3 separate regions of the Homo sapiens genome follow, and all the other regions are reported to be linked to region 2. The links are microRNA targets in miRTarBase. Many come from high-throughput screens and were not tested one by one. Region 2 holds a microRNA gene; each other region holds the end of a gene's coding sequence.
Evidence for each region. Region 2 holds the annotated microRNA hsa-miR-545-3p (UCAGCAAACAUUUAUUGUGUGC, at 3,305-3,326, opposite strand). A microRNA usually pairs through its seed, bases 2 to 8, with sites in the 3' UTR of a target mRNA and lowers its output. Matches are read on the target gene's strand: a 7mer-m8 pairs with bases 2 to 8, a 7mer-A1 pairs with bases 2 to 7 and ends in A, and an 8mer does both.

Region 1 (5,077 bases), not on the chromosome of region 2:
TAGACTTTTTTGGTAGCCCTTACAGGTTTAATAAAGTGGCACGTAGTGAATTTTAGTGAATTGATTGAATGAGAGAATTCTTTCTTTAGTGATAGGCATATTTCATTAATTCTGAGTTGCACATTTTTTCACATTTTAGCATCTGTGAAATGAGGATGCATTCTATAATCCATGGCTACATGACGATCATGATACAATTGTGACAGCCTCTGTAAAACATAGCCATAATTCCTTTGTCTTACCTAAGATAATTAACAGTAGTAATTCATAGTACTAATTATCTTACCTAAGATAATTAACAGTAGTAGTAGTATTGTCATCAAATTTCTGGGAGTCAAACTTTAAAAGATAGCCCAAATAATCAGTTATATCATAAATTCAGTTATTCTATATATTAACATATCCAGAGTCTGGGTGTTGTGGCTCATGCCTGTGATCTCAGCACTTTGGGAGGCTGAGGCAGGAGGATCAGTTGAGCCCAGGAGTTATTATGATGGCACCACTGCACTGCATCCTGGGTGACAAAGCAAGACGCTATCTCTAATAATAACATATCCAGATACTTTTACCAGTTGTTGTTACTATAAATTAGGTAATTCAAATTTTCCTAAAATTATATTAATAGTTTTTGCTGTTTTACAGAGTAAGCCATATCAAAGACTTCATTGAAAAATACCAAGGATCTCAAAGAAGTCCTCCGTTTTCCCTGGCAACAGCTCTTCCTGTCCTCAGGTTGCTAGATGAGACACTCACACTGGAAGAAGCAGATTTACAGAATGCTGTCATCATTCAGAGACTCCAAAAAACTGCATCTTTTAGAGAACTTTCAGAGCACTGATTTTTGATAGACTAAGTGGAAAATTTGCAGAGAAATGATGGTTGTAAGTGGACATGCAAACCAAAATTGGGGATTGGAGAAGTCAGACTCACTAGACTTTTGGTTCGAGTACTATTGAACTCTCTCCTGATGAGAAGATGTTTAGATAAGTACAAGTTAAGAAAGTAGCATATGACTGGAAACTATATTCAGTGCACTTTCTCCAAAAGACTACCCAGAAAAATAGACTTATTTTCAAATACCAGTTATCAAGATATATTAAATAGCTGTATTGTTTAGAATCTTAATATGGTATAAATTAGCATATGTATTCACAATATTCATTCAGACATCATTCCCAGACAGCAGGGATTTATTTAAATGTTAGCTGTCTGAGTTTTTAAATAGCTAATACGACCGGGTACAGTGGTTCATGCCTGTAATCCCAGAACTTCGGGAGGCCGAGACAGGCAGATCACGAGGTCAACAGATTGAGACCATCCTGGCAAACATGGTGAAACCCCATCTCTAGTAAAAATACAAAAATTAGCTGGGCGTGGCGGTGCGCAACTGTAGTCCCAGCTACTCGGGAGGCTGAGGCAGGAGAATCTCTTGAACCTGGCAAGTGTAGGTTGCAGTGAGCTGAGATTGAGCAACTGTACTCCAGCTTGGCGACAGAGCAAGACCCCCTCTCAAAAATAAATAAAATAAAGTAAAATAAATATAAATAATTGTGGCCGGGTGCAATGGCTCATGCCTGTAATCCCAGCACTTTGGGAGGCTGAGATGGGAGGATCACTTGAAGCCAGGAGTTTAAAACCAGAATGATCAACAGAGTGAGACCCCTGTCTATATATTTTTTTAATTTAAAAAATAAAAGAATAAAATTGTGTAGCTCAGTATAGTATCAAGATTAATCTGCCTACTCACATTTCTACACTTTATAAAAATGTAATAAAAGAAAATTATCTTTCTAAAAAGCCTATTCCCTTTCCATTTTATTTTCTTTCAAAAATTATGGATTTGTTTTTGGCTAACATTTGGGATTAGCCATTCATTTGCCACCACTCACTTAGAATATAATGCCGGTGTGTGTCACATTACTAGTATTTTTTAAATGCATCATATAAAGTATGGTTTTCTGTTTCTTTTTCGTTTGTTTGAGATGGAGTTTCGCTCTTGTTGCCCAGGCTGGAGTGCAGTGGCGCAATCTCAGCTCACCACAACCTCCACCTCCCGGGTTCAAGAGATTCTCCTGCTCAGCCTCCCAAGTAGCTGGGATTACAGGCATGCGCCACCATGCTTGGCTAATTTTGCATTTTTAGTAGACACGGGATTTCACCATGTTGGTCAGGCTGGTCTCGAACTCCCGACCTCAGGGGATCTGCCTGCCTAGGCCTCCTGAAGTGCTGGGATTACAAGTGTGAACCACCGTGCCCAGCTGGTTTTCTGTTTCATACATCAGAGTCAACTTGTGAATACATTTAAAGATTATTTCATTTTGATATCACGAAGAAAAACAGGCTTTATATCTCAGACTTTAACTAAATCCAGTTAGACCTCAATTTTTCACTGTCAGATTAAATCCCCATACCTGAAAATAAGTTTAACATTTTTTTTTGCAAATGATCTATTGAATCAGATTTAAAATGAAGCATGCATTGAGTGTGCCAAGGAACTAAGTGGTCCATAGCAGCAGTAATGTTCATAGGGTGCGAGATGCCTGCTATGAAACAGCAACTCTCAAACATTTTTATCTCAAGACCATTTGTTTATGTGAGCTATATATATTATTATATTAAATATTAAATTTTTAAAATATTTATTTATGGGCCAGGCACGGTGGCTTACGCCTGTAATCCCAGCACTTTGGGAGGCTGAGGCAGGCGGATCACAAGGTCAAGTGATTGAGACCATCCTGTCCAACATGGTGAATCCCCGTCTCTACTAAAAATACAAAAAAAATTAGCTGGGTGTGGTGGCATGCGCCTGTAGTCCCAGCTACGTGGGAGGCTGAGGGAGGAGAATGGCTTGAACCCGGGAGGTGGAGGTTTCAGTGAGCCGAGATTGCGCCCCTGCACTCCAGCCTGGTGACGGAGCGAGACTCTTTCTCAAAAAAAAAAAATTATTCATTTAAAAATAACTTCTGGCTGGACATGGTGTCTCACGCCTGTAATCCTAGCACTTTGGGAGGCCAAGACAGGTGGATCACTTGAGCCCAGGAGTTTGAGACCAGCCTGGGCAACAAGGCAAAACTCTATCTATAAAAATTACAAAAATTAGTGCAGTAGCTCACACCTGTAATCCCAGCACTTTGGGACACTAAAGCGGGCAGATCACCTGAGGTCAGGAGTTCGAGACCAGCCTGGTCAATGTGGTGAAACCATGTCTGTACTAAAAATACAAAAATTAGCCTGGTGTGGTGGCACATGCCTGTAATCTCAGCTACTAGGGAGGCTGAGGGAGGAGAATTGCTTGAACTCAGGAGGCAGAGGTTGCAGTGAGCCGAGATTGCGCCACTGCACTCTAGCTTAGGCAACAGAGTAAGACCCTGCCGTAATAATAATAACTTTTTTTTTTTTGAGATAGAGTTTTGCTCTTTCCCCCAGACTAGAGTGCAATGGCGCGATCTTGGCTCACTGCAACTTGTCCCCCCGGGTTCAAGCGATTCTTCTGCCACAGCCTCCCGAGTAGCTGGGATTATAGGCGCCCACTACCACGCCTGGCTAATTTTTGTATTTTTAGTAGAGACGGGGTTTCGCCATGTTGGCCTGGCTGGCCTCTAACTCGTAACCTCAGGTGATCCGCCCGCCTTGGCCTCCCAAAGTGCTAGGATTATAGGCGTGAGCCACTGTGCCCAGCCAATAATAACTTATAAAACATGAAACGATTTAGTGAGAAAAGTGGCCGGTTTTTTGGGGGGAATTACTTTCTGTCATAAAGAAGATAGATGGGTTCTCATGTCTTCTACATTCAGTCTGTTGTGCAGTCACATATCATGTAGACTCTGGAAAACACCTCTGTATACTGGTGAAAGAATGAAAAGAAGCAAATAATGCCTTAGTATGATTATGAAAAACGTTTTGACTTCACAGTGCCCTGAATGGGTCTTGGGAATCTCCAGGGATCCCTCAGGCACACTTTGAGAACCAATCTATATAAAGTGATGGTTCACAATGATTCTGAAGCCTTAGTTTCAGAATCATTTGGGGCAGCTTTTCAAAAATGCCATTCCTGCCACCTACCACAAAGATTCTGATTCACTGTATCTGTGATGGGTCTCAGATCTCTGCATTTTTAATCTCACGTGATTCTTAAGTATGTGGTGGAAGTACCTTTCTTCAGGAAATTCTGTCCTAAGCTTTTACCCTGAGAAAATAAAACCTGCATGCTTTCACCATGGACGGTGGGAGACTCCACTGAAACACATCTGCTAGACCACTAAGTTTATCCTTGTCACCCAGTTTGCTCTTGGAAAGAGTCTGTTCCCTTTTGTCACTGAACCAATCATGACATAAACTTGTGCTTTACCTCCTATAGCACAGCCGAGACAAGGCTGGAACATTTAATTAAGGTTTTTACTAAGGACTCAGGAATAACAACAGGGAAATATCTATGTAACTAGATGACCTGACATAAAATCTATCTTCTGATTGCAGTCTATTGTGAGAATGCTGCTTTTCCTAGCTCCCAGCCTTCCATGGGGCAGAAGGCTCTTTTAATTAGGAAGAGAGGGAGGACAAAGGAGAGCCTTTTCTTTTGTCCATTACTCTTAGAAATGAACAGGTACATAATAGAAAATAAATAATTATTGTTGGTAATGTTTACACAGCAGTGTTAGAGCCTCTCTGTAGTGAAACAAAAATAATGTTCTTACCAAAAAAAAAAAAAAAAAAAAGAGGCAATGATAAAATCAATGAGCTTATCTTTCTGATATAGAAAATAACAGGATGACAGTTAATACATGTTCAGGAATCTAAGAAAATGTTTCATATAGGCCTATCATGTAGCATTTTTATTTGCATAATTATAGTCAACATATGATTCTCCATGTAGGGGTCTCTCATTGAGAATGTTTCCTGTGTACCTATAGAAAAGCCTCTTTGGTAGATTTTCCGGTTTATAATTATTTAACCAGAAGATACATGGGAGGTTCTTTTGTATGTACCTGTAGAATACATCCCAGTAAGGGTCCTATGGAGAAAGACCTGTTGTCATCAATAACCTTCATTATTCTAACTGTGAAACGTTCATTAATGC
Region 2 (5,077 bases):
CAACATGGTGAAACCCCGTCTCTAATAAAAATACAAAAATTAGCTGGGCGTGGTGGCGCATGCCTGTAATCCCACTCGGGAGGCTGAAGCAAGAGAATTGCTTGAACCAGGGAGTCGGAGGTTGCAGTGAGCCGAGATCACGCCACTGCACTCCAGCCTGGCGACAGAGCAAGACTCCGTCTCAAAAAAAAAAATCAGCCAGAATCCCAGAAAAGTTTAACACTTGGGGTATGTTCATCCAACAACTTCCATGTACATACACAAACATGAATTCTTATTTTACAATGATTAGATGAAACTATACTATTGCCCTTTAGCCCTTTTTCAATTAATATACTGTATACTTCTTTCCAAGTCAAATATTTATCTTCAAGACTATTTTTATTTTTAATGGCTATGCTGTCCCATTACATGAATACACCAAAATGTATTTAACCAAGTTCCTATTCATGACTAGGTAAGTTTTTCCATTATTTACTGTTATGAACACCGTGAATATGCCCATATCTAAATCTTTTTTTAAATAATGTTAAACATATATTTGGGGGTATATCCCTATAAATGAATACAAATCTTACAGTGTAAGAGATTTGCAAAGATCAGTAAAACACATCTCTACCCTTGAGTTTAAATCAAAGGAGAGAGACACAAACAGGTAACATTTACCATTATCATGTCCATGGATAAAGATAAACAAAATTTCATGGTGCTTCCTAATTGAAACTGCAGCTGTTGCTAACAGAAAAGGCTCAAAGAATACTATTAGACAGTAGCCCAAATTAAAATTCCATTTGCTAGAATTCCAAAGTTATTCTAATGCTAAATATTGCCTCATTGGCATTTCAATATGACATTGTTGTTTCTCCTTTAGCAAGCCTTAAAGGAGAGAACCAAGCAGAAGCTGCTCAGAAAACCACCTACCCTAAAGGCAGAGAAGTGAGTAAGGTGCAGGGCAGTATATGACACTGGACCTGGACTTCCATCTTTCCTTCCCCCTACTATTTCCAGTAAACAACAGTGAGCTATAGCCATTTTCTTTCAGAAACAACGTGGATTCTCTCCCTGGGACTCTCATTCCTGCACAGATCTGCTTACACATAGTTGGGCTGTGCTGGTATTCATGCTGACTTAGAAGACAAAAATAAGAATGAAAAGAAGCTTTTTCAGCACCATGATGGGTCAGATACAGATGACATTAACACAGAAGACAGACAGATTTTTAAAACCTATTCAACAAAGATGAGTTACTGTGATAACACAAACAGTCCTGAATCTTATAGTAACATTTCAGTCACAGGCGCATATACAATGGTGGTCCCATAAGATAATAACACCACGTTTTTACTGTACCTTTTCTATGTTAGATATGTTTGGATATACAAATACTTACCACTGTATTCCAAATGCCTACAGTATTCAATACAGCAACATGCTGTACAGGTTTGTAGCCTAGGAGGAATAGGCTATACCATATAGCCTAGGTGTGTAGTAAGCTATACCATCTAGGTTTGTATAAGTACACTCCCCTATGATGTTCACACAACAACAAAATGACTTAATGATCCATTACTCAGAACATATCCTGTCTTTAAGCAACACATGACTGTATAGTTAAATGTTAATTATAAAATCTAGGTGTTGGGTACATGGCTTTTCACCGTACAATTCTTTCAACTTTTCTGTATGTATGTTTGACAACTTTCACAATACAATTTTGGGAAAAATCCAGCAAGCAGCTTTAAAAATATGGCTGTAAGACCTTTCCTTCTATTATATTTTATTCCTAGGATGATCCTATCCAACGAGATGAACCTATTCAGTGTTTCCTCCATTTTGTTTTAGATTTAGCTTTCTCAAATATGACTTTGAGCTCTCCGACTTTTTAATGAAGTGAAATGAATCAACATGTATTCATAGGCAGGTTACCAAGATAGTACATGTAAAGTTGGGGAGGCACAAGGGGAGGGGCTCTAAGCTCTTGGAAGTCTAGGCTCACTATCTGTATACATCTAAATAAATGAGTATTTCAGACACCCCACTTCTTCATTTAAAAATTAGTGTTAGGGACCCTCTAAACATTTGCCTCAGCTTACCTTTCTGCCTTATCTCACATTAAGTCCTTATTTCCCATATTCTCATTGCAAAGAACTGTGTAGGAAGGAGGGGGGCAAGGACGAAGGCACCAAAGCATGCTATGTCCACGTGCTTCAAGTTTGAATATAATAAAAGGTATTTCTAGAGTAGAGGTTCAAAGCTTGATGTTGAAGGGCAGGGTATAACTGACTGACTGCAGGACCCTGGGGGAGGTCTTATAATCTTCTACTTTAAAACATGTCTTAGCTGGCTTATCTGTAAAAGAGGAAAAAGACTTGTCACAAGCAATGACAAATGAAGTAAATAAATATGAATTTCTGGTCTGGTGAATGGAATGAGAAATGAAACCATCACTGTCGAGTGATGATCCAGAGTGGGCACAGATCTTTTTCTACAAAGGCTTTGTGGGCCACAATGTCTCCAATATATTTAATGGCAAAAACAGCAACTACTTTTGCACCAACCTAATAGCTACTTAATTGTGCCACTGGGCCGCAAAAGCGGCCCCAGGTAAAACATCGATGAATGAACATGGCTGTGTTCCAATATAGAATGGTATTTACAAAAACAGGTAGCCCATGGGCAATAAAGTTTGCCCACCCTTGGTTTAGAATATGGAGTCTGGTTGGGTGCAGTGGCTCACACCTGTAATCCCAGCACTCTGGGAGGCTGAGGGAGGTAGATCGCTTGAGTCCAGGAGTTCAAGAACAGCCTGGGCACCATAACGAGACCCCTTCTCTACGAAAAATACAAACATTAGCCAGGGGTGGTGGCACACACCTATAGTCCTAACTCAGAATGCTGAGGTGGAAGATCACCTGAGCCTAGGAGTTCGAGGCTGCAGTGACCCGTGTTCGCACCATTGCACTCCAGCCTGGGCAACAGAGTGAGAACCTGTCCCTTAAAAAAAAAAAAAAAAGAAAGAAAAATGCAAAGTCCTATCTAAGAATACTATTTGGATGATTACCTGGGCCCTGAGGATGAGGCCCCAATCTAACAGTTATCACTCAAGTCCCACCAAGAAAGCAAGTGTCAGCAATAGCAACAGTTGCAACATCTGTAAATATCAAGGACTGAAATCCAAACACAAAAATGGCATTGTCTCATGAGAAACTCTTAGGAAGATATATACAGAAATATCAAATTTCTGACCACATGCTTTTTGAAGAAACAGCTGACAATCCAGAGCCTGTGGAGCTCACTTTAGCAGGCACACAATAAATGTTTGCTGATGAGTCATTCATTTATTCATCTAATAAACATTTACTGAGGCCTACTAATGTGCCAGGCTGGGCTCTGGAGATGAAGACACCTTCCTTGCCCTCAAGGAGCTCACAGTCTAACTGATAACAGGAAGAGAGACAGGCATATACACAGACAATTACAATACAATCTGATAAGTGCTATAACACTTATCAGGTTGTATTATAATGGCCGATGTAAAATTTCTTCCCAGGGGGTGCTGCTCCAGGCTGCTGCTGGCTGTAACATCAAGAGAGGTGAGGAACAAATTATAGAAATCAAAGGTTAAATGCTTTTCGGTTATTTCAAATATTCAGGCTTTCCCTAACCCGTGGCCATAGACGGAATTGGGAACTAGACACTGGCATGATGTAAAATGGGACTTCCATGCACAGACTTCCAATAAAGGAACTTCTCAATCCCCTCCTCTAAAATATGAGCTTTTTTTTTTCCTTTTTGCTTATACTCCTCTTAACCTCCCCACCCTACTACCCACATGAGCCTGGTTTAATATCTACAGCTAGCAAAATGCTGAAAAATGGGAGCTTACAACTAACTGGATTAACCCAGTGTAACCGGATAGCAAAAAGCAGTAAGTAATAGCTCATTTGGCACTTCTAAATCCAATAATCCTCATCCTTCACTGGAAAAAAAAAGTTAGAATGTTATTAAATACAAAATAGATAATATACAGATCAGAGTAGGAATAAGTTAGAAAAGTTTATTTAATAAACATAATTAAACAGATTCTCTAAACTAGAAATAACATTCAGTTTCAGGAAACCAGAATTAGACCCCTCCAAGACCTTTGAGAATATCTAATTCACCTATGTATTATAAACAAGAAAAATGAAACAGAGAGATAACACACTCTGCCCACTCCCTTTTCAAAATCATGTGAGTGATAGTAACAGACTCCTTGAGGCAAGATTATTACTGTAATAGTTATTTGGTTCAGATGGTTTTATACAAAGATAAGATGGCATTTTTCTGTGCCTCATACCTTTCTTAATAATACCTAGGTTTTTACTGGCTTTTTTGTCTCTGACCAGCAAATAGGGCTGATAACATCAGCAAGTTGTTGACAGTTATACTGAGATCACTGTTTTGGGACCCAATGTCTCTATGAGGCTGTTATTTAATAAGCTTAACATACTATTTTCCCCTAAAGTTATTTCACTGCTCTTGCCTATACACTGTTCCTTTCTGCCAATTAGCCCACTCCTGGTGCCTTCTCACATGCTAGCGTGTTCCTATTAGCATTTCACATCCCCAAAGCATTTAACAGTATGTATAAATGTGGACACTTCAATATTGCCCATATCCTCCCTCAGACCACTCAGAAATATTTAAAATAAGACCAGTCCCTGAATGGATGGGGGAGAAGGGACCGCTGTTTTGTTTCTTGTCTAAATTAGTTTCTCATTAGGGACAAAATGTTGCCCTGTCTTCTCCCCATGCCCAGAGCCAGGAAGCACCACTGTTGTACAGTACTCAAAAGTGCTTTCCTTTTAGATAAAAAGAAATGGATTTCTGTTTAAAGGTCAGACAAGGCTGGGTAAGGTGGCTTATGCCTGTAATCCCAGCACTTTGGGAGGCGGAGGCAGAAAGATTGCTTGAGCCCAGGAGTTCGAGACCAGCCTGGGCAAGACCTCCACTCTAAAAATAAAAACAAAAATAAGATAGAGGTCAGACAAATGTTATCTCAAAATGGCTACCAAGAACCAGACATGTATCCACA
Region 3 (5,077 bases), not on the chromosome of region 2:
TAGAAGATACAATACCATCTCAAGGATGACATAATCAAATAGTATCATGGGAACACTCCTCCCAGAAATACTCTCCTCTATCCTTAGGAGCACAAATCCCAGGACAGGATGCCACAAGAGTGATTAGACATAACCCTAGGAGATAAAAACCAAAAACACCCCCTAAAAAGTCTCCCAGCCTGAGCATTAGAAACTCTCAAAGTGAGGAGAAGTTTGTAGAGAAGCAGTTGAGAAAATGAGGGATGCCACAGAGATCTGAGTACCTTGTCTCTAGAGCTTTGGTGAATAAAATCTTATGGTTTATGGAAGAGACCCTAGTATGGCTGTGCAACTGTGAATTAATGAGATGAAATTAGAGACCTGTTTAAAGAGGTTAATACCATGTATCCCTACTCAAGTGTATGGAACAAGGAAGAAACAAAAACACTGACACTGAGCCTACCCTATCTCCCACACTCATGGGCTCTCATCCCTCCAAATATGTAATTTCCAAGCTAGTGAAGCTGAGTCCTCCTCAGAGCCATAGTGGCAGGTCCTGGGGCTTCAATTTCATTAAAACATAACTGATGCTGCTGGCTCAGTGCTTTGGGCAAAGGGCATATGGGTCAGATTGAAACTGTCCATGTCAATCCTGTTACCAAGATCAAGGCTTAGCTTACTTTATAGCAGCCATCCTGGCATAAGGAAAAGTAACCCAGAGTTTGACTCAAGTTTTCTTTCTCCAAAGAGTGCTTTCTCCCAGGAGCCTCAATCAGAAACCATTTTCTTTCTTTCTTTTTTTTTTTGAGAGGGAGTCTCACTCTGTCGCCCATGCTGGAGAGCAGTGGCGTGATCTCGGCTCACTGCAACCTCTGCCTCCCAGGTTCAAGCAATTCTCTTGTCTCAGCCTCCCAAGTAGCTGGGACTACAGGCACCTGCCACCACCAAGCCTGGCTGATTTTTGTATTTTTAGTAGAGACGGGGTTTCACCTTGTTGGTCAGTCTGGTCTCCAACTCCTGACCTTAGGTGATCCAGCTGCCTCAGCCTCCCAAAGTGCTGAGATTACAGGCATAAGCCACCACGCCCAGCCCAGAAACCATTTTCTCCCTGGATTTCTCAGGCACTAATTTTCTTTTTTTTTTCTTTTTTTTTTTTTTTTTAGAGTTGGGATTTCACCATGTTTCCCAGGCTGGTCTCGAACTCCTGAGTTCAAGCAATGCACCCACCTCAGTCTCCTAAAGTGCTGGCGTGAGCCACCGGACCTGGCTGAATTTTCTTATCCTCAGTTGTCAATTCCAATTGTCTTTTCTATCTCTCCTCAAAAGACATGTAGGGAAACAAGAGGGAAGAAATATCTAGCCTTCCTGCTCAGTTCTCTTTTGCCCAGCAAGGGCTACTTTGCCTTGGGAACTGTTTAGAGAGTTCAAAGAAAGAGGCAAAAACATGTATCTTGAACCCATGGATAAAATGAAGTACATACAAACTTAGCTAAAGAGAAAGGCCAATCAAAGCTGTAACAGGCTGGGCATGGTGGCTGAGCCTGTGACCCCAGCATTTTGGGAGGCCAAGGTGGGAGGATTACTTGAGGCCAGGAGTTCAAGATCAGCTGGGGCAACACAGCAAGACCCTGTCTCTACTAAAATAAAATAATTAGCTGGGCATGGTGGCATATGCCTGTAATGTGGCCCAGCTATTCCAAAGGTTGAGGAAGGAGGATGCTGAAGCCCAGGAGTTCAAGGGTACAGTGAGCTATGATTGTGCCACTGCACTCTAACCTGGGCAACAGAATGAGACTGTCTCTAAAAAATAAGTTTTTTAAACAAAGAGCTATAATAGAAGGTACCATTTATGTAAACTCAATTATCCTCTTCACCTGAGCTGAACCCAAACCACTTGGTAAGTTAACTTGATCAATTCACTAGGACTGAGAAGCCAGTGAGGGGACAATTGCAGCAGCTTCTCAGTTTAGACCCAGAGGGTTTCCCTGGGATGGAGATAACCTGAAAATGAAATGCTCCTCAAGGTTAGACAGGCACTGACCCAAGAATGAGCATTCAAGCTGGACAGCAAATCTTCCCTTCAAGGCATTAAGATTTATTGAAAAACTACATACATATTAAAACATCTTTATACACATTTTCCCCATTATAAGATTACAAGTATACAAACATAAGTATTGTCAAAGTCAACATCTTGAGTATTAGAAAACTGTAGAAAACCGGCCGGGTGCGGTGGCTCATGCCTATAATCCCAGCACTTTGGGAGGCCGAGACGGGTGGATCACCTCAGGTCAGGAGTTCAAGACCAGCCTGGCCAACATGGCGAAACCTCATCTCTAATAAAAATACAAAAAATTAGCTGGGAGTGGTGGCAGGTGCCTGTAATCCCTGCTATTTGGGAGGCCGAGGCAGAATTGCTTGAACCTAGGAGGCGGAGGTTGCAGTAAGCCGAGATCATGCCATTGTATTCCAGCCTAGGTGACAGAGCCAGCCTATGTCTCAAAAAAAAAAAAAGAAAAGAAAAGAAAAGAAAAAGAAAAAGAAAAGAAAAGAAAAACTGTAAAAAACCTACAACCTAATTGCATCAATTAAATTGGTGTTCCCATCTCCCAGTAAAAAACTGGCACACTCTCTTCCAACTGCCCAAGTACAGGTCCTGACACTGAAACCACAGTATTCACATGGAATGTTTTTCCAAAGCAGCACTGATGCTCAGTTCTGAGGGGAAAAACATTTGTCTAAAATTCTGAGAAGCTTGTGGTAGTTCAGGGAAAATGGAGAATGATGGCAATTCTCTTCAATAATATTTTTATTAAATTCCATGGTGGCCTTCTCTCAAAATTAGTAATGAAATGCTGAAATGTCCATTGATTAGTGAGGGCAATGTATGTAAGCCAGAAGAATGCAATAAATAAGGGTTATGTTTCTTCTTGTCAGACCCAGAAGGGAGATCTTTGAACAACAGTGCTTCAAATTGAGAATTCAGTCCCAGGAAGGGTCTCTCTGCCCCACAGACTGTGGTGGACAAACACTGGGTGTAACACTTTATCTTCATCCCCAAGCCCCAGAAAATTAGAGGCAGAGTCTTTCTGACTTGGGTACCAGTTTAAGTCCTTATTAAGCAGCAAAAATTAATTCAAAATTTGATGCTGCCTTGGGAAGAAGCATACAGGAAAATGAAAGGGGTAAGAGTAATACAGCAGCCCATCTGTTGGTTCCTAGGTCCTCCATCTAAGAAATCGTTCTTTTGGCTGGGCACAGTGGCTCACGCCTGTAATCTCAGCACTTTGGGAGGCTGAGGCAGCTGGATCACTTGAGGTCAGGAGATCGAGACCAGCCTGGCCAACATGGTGACTCCCTGTCTCCACTAAAAATACAAAAATTAGCCAGGTGTGGTGGCATGCACCTGTAGTCCCAGCTACTTGGGAGGCTGAGACAGGAGAATCACTTGAACCCGGGAGGCAGAGGTTGCCGTGAGCCGAGATTGCGCCACTGCACTCCAGACTGGGCAACAAAGTGAGACTATCTCAAAAAAAAAAAAAGAAATCTTTCTTTCACCGAGCCCTGGTCATCATGGTACGTATCTCATGGGTGTAAAGGAGTCATTATGGTACTGATTTTCACTGTTTAATCTGTAATGTCACACTTTTCCCTACTCTTCCTCTTCCAACCACTTCTATCAATCACAAAGAGATATTAACCCAGAAAGCTGCTACAATAAAATGTCAAATGTCTAATGGAGGAAGTGAAACCTAACCCAAGGCCAGGTGCAGTGACTCATGCATGTGACCAGCACTTTGTGGGGCCGAGGTGGATGGATCATTTGAGGTCAGGAGTTCAAGACCAGCCTGGCCAACATGGTGAAACCCCGTCTCTACTAAAAATACAAAAATTAGCTGGGCGTATTGGCACATGCCTGTAATCCCAGCTACTCGGGAGGCTGAAGGAGGAGAATCGCTTGAACCTGGGAGGCAGAGATTGTGGTGAGCCGAGATCACGCCACTGCACTCCAAGCTGGGCAACAGAGTGAGACTCCCATCTTAAAAAAAAAAAAAAAAAGGAAACCTCACCCAAGTATTCCATGAGTTGTTGATGTTGTAAATACTGCAGAATTGAAATCAGTGGCCAATTCAGGGAATAATACTAGGAAAAGAGATGTCCAGAGCTGTGCAGTAGAAATCACTGGAATTTCTGTCTGCAATCTTATTGCATTGATTATGAAAGAAGGAAGGATCATTGGCTGGAGTGTCAATTCCAACTTTCAGTGCTAGAAACTTCTCAAAGCAGTCTCAATGTAGATTTTGGCACCTTTGATGGTGTTAGCTCTCCAAATATTTGAAGATGCTTCGCGTCAATCCTGAAGTGCTATCATCTGTTTTGAGGTGCTTAGGTGAAGGAGAAGTCATGAAAGATGGACCCCTTTTCTTTACCTAGAGAGCAGAGAGGGAGTCAGGGCCAGCTAAAGACCTTCATACAAGTATTTACCTTCAATTAGCTCTCAAGCAACTCATAAATTGTGGATGATTAACAACAGAAAAAAAGAAAGAAAGATAAACTTTCTCGGCAAGTTTAAAAGTTGATTACCGACTGGGGTAGCAATTCTCTTGTACCTTATCGGGGAGTGCAAGATTTCAACATTGCAGCATAGAGGTTAAGCCAGAATTTTTGTTTTTAAATTTAAATAAATGAATAAATTCTGGTTTGGGAAGCCACCATATTAGTTCTCAAATTCCATACCTGAGACTTAGACGATTCCTTTGCCGCCTCAGCCTTGACAGGAGAAAGTGTATGAAAGACAAAGTTTCTTGAATTTCGAGGAGCACTGGGGTTATGGTCAGAGAGAGCAGCCAGTTTCTGAAGCACAGCTTTGGGCTGGTTTAGCAGTGAGCCTGTCTTCACCTGAGGAAAGAAGAGTCATCTGGTATCAAATCCCAAGTGCCAACTAAAGAATGAAAAGTCCTTCCCTCCCTGCTTCCCCCTAGATATTGAGGGTACATATGCCTACCCTATTCAAATAGAAAAGAAATAGCAGACTCCTTTGACATTAACTTTTTCCCTGCAGCCACCTCCTTCCTCTAATGACAGAGACTATTCTCTA

Region 1: miRTarBase lists UBXN2A as a target of hsa-miR-545-3p. The part of its 3' UTR that is shown has no 7-base or 8-base seed match.
Region 3: miRTarBase lists CLSPN as a target of hsa-miR-545-3p. Seed matches in the 3' UTR shown: 7mer-m8 at 3,102-3,108 and 7mer-m8 at 2,045-2,051.

Annotation. Positions count from the first base shown.
Region 1 is chr2:23,999,030-24,004,106 of GRCh38, forward strand. UBXN2A (UBX domain protein 2A) reads left to right here. Exons shown (of 7, transcript NM_181713.4): 7 at 643-5,077. The coding sequence ends at 838. Among named protein-coding and RNA genes, the nearest start is that of MFSD2B, 8.5 kb to the right of the region's middle.
Region 2 is chrX:74,283,822-74,288,898 of GRCh38, forward strand. It overlaps MIR545 (microRNA 545), which reads right to left and starts at 3,388; the gene lies at 3,283-3,388. The region is part of intron 1 of FTX (FTX transcript, XIST regulator); the gene reads right to left. It overlaps MIR374A (microRNA 374a), which reads right to left and starts at 3,536; the gene lies at 3,465-3,536. It overlaps LOC124905199 (a long non-coding RNA gene), which reads right to left. Exons shown (of 2, transcript XR_007068266.1): 2 at 4,044-5,077. RefSeq lists an enhancer at 1-498.
Region 3 is chr1:35,732,198-35,737,274 of GRCh38, forward strand. It overlaps CLSPN (claspin), which reads right to left. Exons shown (of 25, transcript NM_022111.4): 24 at 4,717-4,878; 25 at 1-4,409. The coding sequence ends at 4,299. Among named protein-coding and RNA genes, the nearest start is that of CLSPN-AS1, 4.7 kb to the right of the region's middle.